Regions from separate parts of the Homo sapiens genome. Here region 1 is linked to region 2. The links come from fine-mapping of genetic effects on gene expression. A gene starts in region 2. The other region holds a variant in brackets. All regions are shown on one strand. Distances are from middle to middle.

Region 1 (5,376 bases), 38 kb after region 2:
AGTCACTTGAACCGGGAGGCAGAGGTTGCAATGAGCTGAGATCATGCCACTACACTCCAGCTTGGGCGACAAGAGCAGACTCTGTCTCAAAAAAAAAAAAAGGCTAGGTTTGGTGGCTCACACCTGTAATCCCAGCACTTTGGGAGGCCGAGGTGGGGGGATCATGAGGTCAGGAGTTCAAGACCAGCCTGGTCAACATGGTGAAACCCCATCTCTACTAAAAATACAAAAATTAGCCAGGCGTGGTGGCGCACGCCTGTAATCCCAGCTACTCAGGAGGCTGAGGCAGGAGAATGGCTTGAACCCGGGAGGCAGAGGTTGCAGTGAGCCAAGATTGCGCACTGCACCACTCCAGCCTGGGTGACAAGAGCAAGACTCTGTCTCAAAAAAAAAAAAAAAAGTCTCTCATCCTGTGGTGAGTATCCTGTATAACAGCAACGAACAACTTCCTTTCTAGGGAAAGCTGGCTTTCTCTCCATTTTTCAGAACAGATGTTTGTATTTTTTGATGAACCCTCATCCCAACTCTCTTCAGACTTCTTTTCTTTGGGTTTTGACACCATGCCTCTTGTTTTCTACCTGATCTGACACCCTAAACTTTGATTTTCGTACCCATGAAATGCTTATTTGCAAATATATGGTTATAGGCTGGAACTAGGTTTTTGTTACCTCCCTAGTCCACATCTTTAAAATGTTTCCTAGTAATGTGTGTTCTGCAAGAAATAAAACTGAGCTATGGTTCTGCAGAAACTTGATAATGTTCTCCCTGGAGGGCTCCTCATTCCTCAGCCTTCTGGGGACTGGCCACGCGATCTTCCCTCATGGGGTGGGCACTCAGCATGTACGTTTTAGACGTATTTGGAACCAGCAAGTTTGGTAGGACAAAGGATGTTTTAAGGATTTAAAGAGAAAAGGAGTCGCCTACATTGAACTCAATCTCGTGCCGAAATTCTTGCAGTCTCTGCCACTGACACCGCATGTGTTCTGGCTTTCGGCAGGATTGTTCTCCCCGGCTTTGCTCTGAAACGTAAAGCCCCATTGCCCACTGCAAGTTTTAATGAAAAGCAGCTCATAAGCAAGTTACGTAACCTAATTGTAATCCAGGGATCAGCTTGGTTATATTATTTAAAGAAATAGCATCCATTTTCCGTGACCTGATTTAGAAAAGAAACTTAGGGAGGAAAAAAAAAATACCCAGTTCAGCATTTGGCTTCCCGTGCTCATTCTAATGAGACTGTTGGTAAATAATTCAGAAACAATGACTTTTAAGAACATTAAACCCAACTTAGCTCAGGGTTCTATCTCAAAGCAGCTAAAGCTACTTAAAGCAAATTATAAATTATTATAAAATATGGAGCTTCTTATTGCAGAAAATTTGGTCATTTAAAAAGTTTATTTCCTCATCAATTCAACACATGCAGAATACTGACTAGATGCAAAATGGGGAATGCTAAAATGCATGGACTGTGCTCTCAGGAAGCCTGAAATCTGGTAGGGGTAATGATAATGTATCAACATTGGTTCATTAGTGGGAACAAATGTACTACAGTAATGCAAGGTGTTAACAGCAGGGGAAGTGGTGTTGGTGGGGGTTGTTACAGGAACTCTGTCCTATCTTTGCAACTTTTCTGTAAATCTAAAAGTATTCTAAAATTAAAAGTTTATTTTTAAAAACCTGGTTAGGGAAACAGTTGGGTACACAAATAGAAACACATCCATCCTTGTTGCCTGATTTATAGAAATAAAACCAGGCCTGCATAATAGGCAGCTTCCTAAGTGGTATGATTGTTTTATGAACTTCAGAAGCACAAAACTGGATTAATCACAGTTCTGATTCATATTAATAGTGTGTCATGAATCAAGGGCTATGACTGGCCCATTGGTTTTTAAATAAACCTCATTTCATTTATTTTCGTTGTATGTGTTATAATAATACAAGAAACCACTCATAACCCCACCTCTCAACCCAAAAGCCAAAAACTCTCCATGACATACATCGACCTACCTGTTCCATCCCATACCAGACCCCAACATTCTTCTCAGTAGTAACTATTCTTTTAAATTTTGTTTTTATCATACATTGCTCTTCTTTAAATTTCATTGCACATTTGCGTGGGCCTAAACAGTATACTAGTTTTATTTGTTTTGAATGTATTATATGTTGTCTTCTAGGACTTGTTCTTTTAGCTCAATACTATATTGCTAAGGTTGATCAATAATGTTGAGATCATACTCTATTCATTTTCACCATTGTGTAACACTCAATAGCAGGACTGTACCACAATTTATTTAACCATGTTTATCAGTGGTTTAATAAATTGTTGCTATTACAAATGGATTGTGCCATGAACATTTTTTTATGTGTGTTCTGGTAAACATATGCTAATGTTTTCATTGAACTAGAGATATGCAAGATTTAACAATCTTAAAACTGCATAAGAATTAAAGCTTGACAGTTCACTTACAGAAATTATGTTAAGCGTGTCTGGGGAAGAGCATATAATACAAATTCTTCACTACTGAAGCAAAGGAAAATATGAATTATACACTAATTTCACACCAGTTAGGATTTGATTTGTCTATAACATAAAACCCAAATTAATCATTCCTTAAACGTATATGTTGCCCTCATGTAAAACATCTGGAGATGAGAAGTCTAAGGCCAGTTTGGCAAGGTCTGCGGAATTGTCATGAACCCAGGCCTCTTCCAGCTTTTCAGTTTGCCATCCCTAGGGTGTGACTTTTATTCTTCTGGTCCAAAAGGGTTGCTCAACTTCTAGTCATTAAATCTGCCTCCTC[A/G]TCAGCAAGAAGGAGAAAAGGAAGGAAGGAGAGTGCATCTTCCATTCAAGGACACTTTCCCCAAATTGCACGTGACATTTCTAATTGCATCCTATTAACTAGAAGGGGGACACACGGCTCTTGCTAGTTTCAAGGGAGGCTGGAAAATGTAGTCTTTATTCTGGTCATCTTGTATTCAGCTAAAAGTTAAGGGTCCTATTACCTAAACGAATGGGAAAATAGACTTTGAAAACAGTTAATAGTCTCGGAGAATTATTACAGCTAAAGTGAAAGCAGAAAAGAAACCAACCCATCAAGGCCTTATTTTGAGAAGTAGAAAGAAAAACTAAACACCGATAACATCACCACCCAGTGATGACCACGGTTAACTTGTTGAGATGTATTTTTCCAGACTTTTTCATCCATATAAAAAACTACATATATGTCTCCAGTATAGCCATAATAATACCTATATCTATACCAATATATTCACATGTATTAGTCTGTTTTCAAGCTGCTAATAAAGACATACCTGAGACTGGGTAATTTATACAGGAAAGAGGTTTAATGGACTTACAGTTCTACATGGCTGGGGATGCCTCACAATTATGGCAGAAGGCAAGGAGGAGCAAGTCAACGTCTTACATGGATGGCAGCAGGCAAATAGAGAGTTTCTACAGGGAAACTCCCATTTTTAAAACCATCAGATCTCATGAGACTTATTCACTGTCCTGGGAACAGCAGGGAAAAGACTTGCCCCCATGATTCAATTATCTCCCACCAGGTTCCTCCCACAACACGTGGGAATTCAAGATGAGATCTGGGCGGGGGACACAGCCAAACCATATCACCACACATTACTTTTAAAGGGAAAATTTAAATTAGTGCCATCAGTCAAAGGGAAAGATAGCTGGGTTGTTTTCCTCCCTCCTTAAATTCTTAATAAACTTCATGGGAAATGCAACATTGGAGCAACTAGAGAAAAGAGGAGAATGTGGTCCATAATTGAATGCTGATATTTCTCAGGGGTGCCAAATGCAAAATATTAATAACTTTAACTGCATACAGGATGCTCTGGAATAAAGATTTAGAGGTGAATTTAAAATAAAATAATTAGTCATCCCAGAAAACCACAGGCATGTCTTCAGTGGGGATGGTAGAAAACTTTGTGGACAGAAAAATTAATGGACACAAGAACTTTGGGGAAAGCCAGACTAATGGAGTTTTCTAGATCATAGGTTAAAAAGAGTTACAAGTATCAATAACTATTTACCCTGAAGCACACCTTACCAGATGAGCACATGCTAGGCTCTCTGTTCTCTGTTTAAAAGTCTCCTAGATAGTGAACCAACATGGCATATGACCTTTTGTTAAGAAAAAGGACTATTATACAGAGCTGCAAATTCACCCAACAAACACTTACTAGGACTTACTACATGTCAGGTACTTGAGTACAAAAAAAGAACATACCATGGTCCACATCTTCATGGAGACTGTAGTACAGTAAGGCAGACAAGCACCTATAAAGATGAATTGGCTGGGTACAGTGGCTCATGCCTGTAAATCTAGCACTTTGGGAGGCTGAGGTGGGTTGATTTCTTGAACCCAGGAGTTGGAGACCAGCCTGCGCAACGTGATGAAACCCCATCTCTTAAAAAAAAAAAGATGAATTGAAGTTTACTATGTGTCAGACACTGTACTAAGCACTTTACATGCATTGTCTGATTTAGCATTTATGACTATCTATTCTTACCCTCATTTGACAGATCAAGAAAATGAAGCTTATAGGTCAGGTAATTTGATTGAGGTCACAAAGCTAGTAAGTGGCAGAGCTAAGAATCTATGTCACATCTGTCTGACTTTAGAGTCACCACTCTGGGCCACTGAGCTAAACTGTCTTACAGCCCAAGTAGGCAGTGCTATAATAGAAGTTGGTACAAAATTCTGAAGGAACACAGAAAAAGCATCAAATATCTGCCAGGGGAACATTTATACAGTAGTGTCTTAGCCTGTTCAAGAAGCTATAACAAAATACTATACACTGAGTGGCTTATAAATAACAGAAATTTATTGCTCACAATTCTGGAGGCTGAAAGTCCAGGATCAAGGTGCTAGCAGATTTTACATCTGATGAGAACCCACTTTCTCATAGAAAGGCCATCTTGTCATTGTAACCTCACATGGCAGAAGGGGTGGGGATCTCTCTGAAACCTTTTTCATAACGGCATTAATTCCATTCAGGAGCATTCTGCCCTCATGACCTAATCACCTCTCAAAGGCCCCATCTCTAAATACCCTCACATTGGGTATTAGTTTCAAAATATGAATTCTGGGATGGGGGGGTGCACATAAACATTCAAAGCACACAAAGTAGCATAAAGATAAGAAAATATGAAGTCTAAATATAATGTCAGTAAGTGTTAAAATAAAGATCAATGTGAGCATTAATAAATGAATGGAAAATATGAGATTTCTTCCATAGAGCCCATTAAACCTGAATTTTATAGGTAGCTTTTCTTACTGTTTTTGGCTACACAGTTCGATTCTATATCATCTAATGCCTTTATCCTGTTTTAGTAGTTATTCATCTATTATTGAC
Region 2 (5,376 bases):
AGTTAAATGTCTTAAGTAGTAGCAGTGTCTTTACATCACACCCGCTTCATGCTACCCTTACAGCTTCCTGGCATAAGCAAGTTCTTGGGATTATACAAACTGCTGCTTCTGTTTGCAGCCCAGATTTCTAGAAATGAAACCCTGGAATTGAGGGAGAAACAAAAACAAATGTTCGCAGAAAGAGGCAGGAAGAAGCATTGTCTATATAATCCTAGTTTAAGTGAAACAATCACCATTAGCTCCATCAAGCACTTTTTTTTTTTTTCCAATAAAACCACTGCAGATCTAAAATACTCTCTTGGTTTAAACCACACAAAAAGCAATTTAATAGGCACAATCCTACAGGTTTTCTGAGAGAAATAAGGAAGAGATCAAGTGTAAGCTACGTAAAATTCACGTTTTGCACCTTATAAAGCAAACTTCAATGTTGTTAAATAACCAGTAGAAAATATCTACAAAAATCAAACTAAACACCTGTTCTTATAAGCAGCAGTCCTCTATTTTCTCTCTAAACCATATATTCCCAACTCAGACCCTCTCTGTGACCCACTGTTCCCAAAGCATAGAGTCTGAAGAAGAAATATAAAACATTTCGGACATTCGTTCACAAAACCAAATTAGACCTTTCCACAAAGTACAGGAGATAAAACAGAAACACTTCCATTTTATCTAATTTATGGCAAATAGTTCAAGGAATGCCTATTTGTTAAGCTGAATCAAACCCCACTGCTACCTTTAACCCAAAACTATTTCTAGTTGAAGATCCAAGAGACCTAAGCAAATACTTTCTTTTCACATTATTCTCAACATGAAGAAATCCGACCCCCTTCCTACAACATCATAGGAGGCCCCTCTGGCCAACTTTCGTTGTTATTGTTGTTGTTTTGTTTGCTTTTTTTTTGAGACTAGCCTCCAACCAATTCCAGAAGAGGAGACAAACCTCAAACAAATTTAACCCTTGAGATCCATCCCTCAACTGTATCATATAATCTACGCTTCACGGCAGTAATGTTTTAAGCAGACACTTGATTTCTTAATCACTGAAATGTAAGCACCAGCCCTCACAAATCATCGCCACAGAGATTCCTCTTGGCATCCACAGAGGGTGCTGGGACTGCAATTCACTCAAGAACCCTTTACTCACCAACATCACACTCGACATTAAAAACTCACCGTCTCCGAAGAAAAAATGTCACCTTCTGCACAAGGACACCTGCCTGTTCAACACCTCTACAAGAAACGAGGAGGGCCAAGCATGAGAGGCTAACAGATCCTCCAGCTTAAAGTTTTCCTCCCCATGAAACTCTCCGGACACAACACCGTGGCCTGTCCTTGTCACACACACACAGGCTGTATTGTCAACCCCTCCGTCTCCCTCTAACGTCGTCAGACTGGGCAGTGTCTACCCATGGGGGTAACTGCTTTTAAATAAAATAAAAAAGCAGCCACCACAGCTGGGTAGTAAGGACTGGAGACCCTGGGTGTCCGATTTTTTCAGGTCTTTTACAAGGGACTAGAGAGCGGCCCGAATTCTGTCACTGCCCACTAACCAACCCCACCTCCCAATCGCCTCGTCAACATGTTTGCTTCCCTTCCTCGGCCCTTTCGGCTGAATCCCAGGAAGGGGACCAAACCCGGGCCGCGACAGGAACATGTCCAGTATCCATCCCATGTCTACCTCCGAAACCCCTTCTCGGGAGAAGGGGCGAGCAAGCGCGCCGGGGTCAAACCCAAGCGCCGTCGAGGGCTGCGCCGACGGAGAGGGACGCCGCGGTCGCCCCCATTTCGCGGTCCCGGCAGGCGAGATTCCGAGAGGTGAGCGGGCCGGCCAAGGTCACGGCGTCGTCGGGGCCGAGGGGCGCCCGCGCCGACTTCCGGCTCCCCCTCTCGGCGGCGGCCCGGGGCGCCCGCTCCCCACGCCGGGCAGGCGGCCGCGCAGCTCGCACCCCCTCCGCGGATGCTCGCCCTCTCCGCGCTAACTAGGGCAACTGGAAAAGAGGCGGAGAGAAGTCGCTGCTGCAGCGATTTCCCCCGGCGGGGAGCAGCCCCCAGCTGGTGCCCGTGACAGCTGCGACCTCCGCCCCCTCCAGCCGCGCCGGGCCGCGAGGGGAACTCGGGGAAGTGGGAGGAGGATGGAGCGGGAGAAAGGAGAGCAGGGGGCGGAGGGGCGCCAGCTGCTCCCCGCCCCCTAGGGCCTCCGCGGCCGCGCGGCTCGTGACAGCTGCACCCACCGGGAGGCTCCGCACCCGCAGCCCGCCACTCACCTGCCGCCGCCGCCTCTGGGCCCCGCTCACCGGCGCCGCACTCGTCCGCGACCGTGGCGGCGGCGCCGCCCCGGCCTCCGCCGCTCCTCGGGCCCGGCGCCGCGGCTCTCCGGCCCCCTCCTCCGGAGCAGGGGTCCCCCCGCAGGGGGATGCAGAGGGAACCTGACGCAGGCTCCGCTCGAGGGAGCAGCAGCGAACAGGCGGCGGAGGCCCTCAAGGCCGCGAGGCAGCCGTCGGAGGACAGAGCTCAGCAAATCGCGTCAGACTCCCGCTCGCCCGGCCTGAAGAACAGGCATTTCAGCCGCTCTCCGCGGCCGCCATGTTCTCCTCCTCGGCCGCCACCGCCGCCGCCGCCACCGCCCCCCGCTCGCGGCACCGCCCCCTTCGCGCCCCGCCCCGCCCCGCCCGTTCCCGGCCGCCCGCCTGCCCGCCCGCCGCACTTCCCCTGCCGGCTCCGGCCGCCCGGGCCGCCGCGACCCGGTGCCCGCGAGCTCCGACAGTGCGCCCGGGACAGCGCGCCCCCAGCCCGCCGGGCCTGCCGGGCCCGCCGAGCGAGGAACCGCCCCGCGCCCTCTGCCGGCCCGCCCCAGCCGGCGTCCTAACGAAGTGTGGGAAAGGAGGCCCGAACTCTTCCCCGCCCGTCTCAACTCCTCCCCGCCCCTCTCCTGCCCTCCCCTCGGGGCGTTCCTCCCACTGCTGCCGGGAAGCGGCCTCGAACACCAGGGCGCTCGCAGCTAGGCCGCCGGGCCTGCCGCCTCCCGCTGTTCTTTATCTTTCTGGGAAGGTGTCGGAGCGGCGAGAGGCCCTGCGGACGGGGCGGAGTCGGCTCCGGGCCTGTCCCTCCACTCGGGCGTTCTGTTACTTTGAGCGAGACATATCCCGCGGGCCTCGTTTTTTATTCTGTAAAATTGGGAGGTGGTTGCCTAGATGATTTCACAGGCTATTAGACAAGAGAAAAGGAAGATCGTCTGCCCCCTTCGTTTTACAGATGAAAAGATCTGCCTGACCCGTTCTGGCTCTGCAATTCCATGAATTATCTAAAATGTCTGTCATTCACAGATCTTTCCCCTCAAGGGGCCCACACCTTTCTTCTTATCTCCCTTTTCTTTTTTTTTTTTTTTTAACTTCTCTAATAGAAGTGCTACTTCCAAAAGTAGAGTGTTCTTGTCACCAGAGGAATCGAACAGCGGCTGAACAGCCTCTCTGAGCTGCGATGGCCTTATCTGGACCGCATCCCGCATTCCAAAGGCTGGCAATGCAATATATACCTATGTCTCTCCCTGGGTTGTCCTAAGCATGAATGAGTCACTCGCCGTGGAAGTGCCTTGTAAAGCATACATCTGTCCATTCCTTTCTTTTATTCTTACCCCATTTCGCACTCTTACCCTTCCTCAATCCTGTCCTGCTGCTGCTGTCTCCCGGCGTTTCCTGCTGTTTCGCTTCCTGTGTGTTCTCCCCTAAATCAATCTCTGTAAATCCTTAAGCCCTTCCCACCCTTCTCCCAACTGGGGAACCTGACAGCCTTGAAAACACCAATCTCCGTGGCAGCTCTCTGAGTCGACGGGCAGCTTCTTTCACAGGCAGGTACTACTGTATGCTTTCACCATCCTCTTCCTATCCTTGTCACGCTCATAAAGTAATCGCTAGACCACACCCCCACATGCATTCATATATTCATTCATTTATATATTCATTCCCCTGATTCTTATCGGAGACCTACTACTGGGGCCCTAGGTGCATCTCCTGAGCTCTGGCTTAGCAGTACCTCTAGCCACCCGCAGAGTCCCTATCCCCAATAATAGCTGAAAATACCCGGGCACTCATGAGTTTCGTCCCCTAATGTAGGGCCTACTTCCCAATCTAGTCCAATGCAGACTGTGTGAAAGTGCCTTGTTCTAGCCTCTGGTGCCAACAAATGAGCCACTTGTGCAAGGTACTCCTGTCTCCACTAGACTCTAGTAAGTGCTGAAGGCCAAATCTAGTGGCCACTTCAGTCCTACTGTCGTGTGGCCTTTCTACAGCACGTGATACTGCTAACTCCTCCTTTTTGAAACTCTCCTCCCTTGTCTTCAATATGAGTCTCTCTACCTGATTTCTGAACTTGCCTTCGTTTGCACTTTTCTTGGGCTGCTCCTTTTTTACGGGGCCATAAAAAATGTTGGTATCCTCAAGGTTTTATTTTTTTCCTTCCTTTCCTCTGGCTTCGGTTGACTGTTTATTTCCACAGCTTCAACTGTTAACAAAACAACTCCTGAATTTCCTTCTTCCAATCTCCCACTCTGCAGCCCGGGGTCGTAATTAACTTTAAAATATCCTCAAGACACACAGTGCTAAGATTTTGTTGAATGACAAATTATTTAGGTGTTAATTTATATTGCCATAACCATCCATGTATGCTAAAGAGAGAGTTCTTTTCTAGAATGGTACTGTTTCTTTTTTGTTGTTGTTGAAACAGAGTCTCGCTCTTGTCGCCCAGGCTGGAGTGCAGTGGCGCGATCTCAGCTCACTGCAGCCTCTGCCTCCTGGGTTCAAGTGATTCTCCTGCCTCAGCCTCCCGAGTAGCTGGGATTACAGGCACCCGCCACCACGCCCGGCTAATTTTTTGTATTTTTAGTAGAGACAGGGTTTCGCCGTGTTGGCCAGGCTGGTCTTGAACTCCTGACCTCAGGTTATCCACCAGCCTCGGCCTCCCAAAGTGCTGGGATTACAGTCATGAGCCACTGCGCCTGGTAATGTTTCTTAAATAATAACTCTTTGACTTTTTTCTCCTTCCTCTACAAGTCATAATCACTTGTCAAAGCAGTTATAACACCCTTTTATGTCTCCAATTGGTAATCTTTTCTCTGGTCATACTCAACTTCTCTCAGACTCCATCTACTTTTACTAAACAGGCCCATTTTACTAATCCACCCGAGCAACCCTAAATATAGGGCCAAAAGATTCATTAGATTTACTTCGTGACTGTACAAGTAGCCTCTCTAAAATCCATTTACCTTAGCTATTTAAAATTTATTTACTCCCAAAATACAATGCCAATCAACAAGGAAGACTAACTCCAATTAAATGAAAATGCTTTGAAGATATTTATAAATAAAAATGTAAGACAACATTT

The links. PIP is the estimated chance that this variant, and not a neighbour inherited with it, causes the effect. A credible set is the group of variants that fine-mapping cannot tell apart.
Region 1: its variant is the best candidate, but not a certain one, in a credible set for the expression of NCOA1 in whole blood (INTERVAL, PIP 0.86).

The regions. Positions count from the first base shown.
Region 1 is chr2:24,450,050-24,455,425 of GRCh38, reverse strand. The region is part of intron 2 of LOC105374329 (a long non-coding RNA gene); the gene reads right to left. Among named protein-coding and RNA genes, the nearest start is that of NCOA1, 39 kb to the left of the region's middle. The variant A/G (reference allele first, on the strand shown) is at 2,799.
Region 2 is chr2:24,488,491-24,493,866 of GRCh38, reverse strand. NCOA1 (nuclear receptor coactivator 1) reads right to left here and starts at 2,613. Exons shown (of 23, transcript NM_003743.5): 1 at 2,265-2,613. RefSeq lists silencers at 1,841-2,330, 2,485-2,643, 2,621-2,960.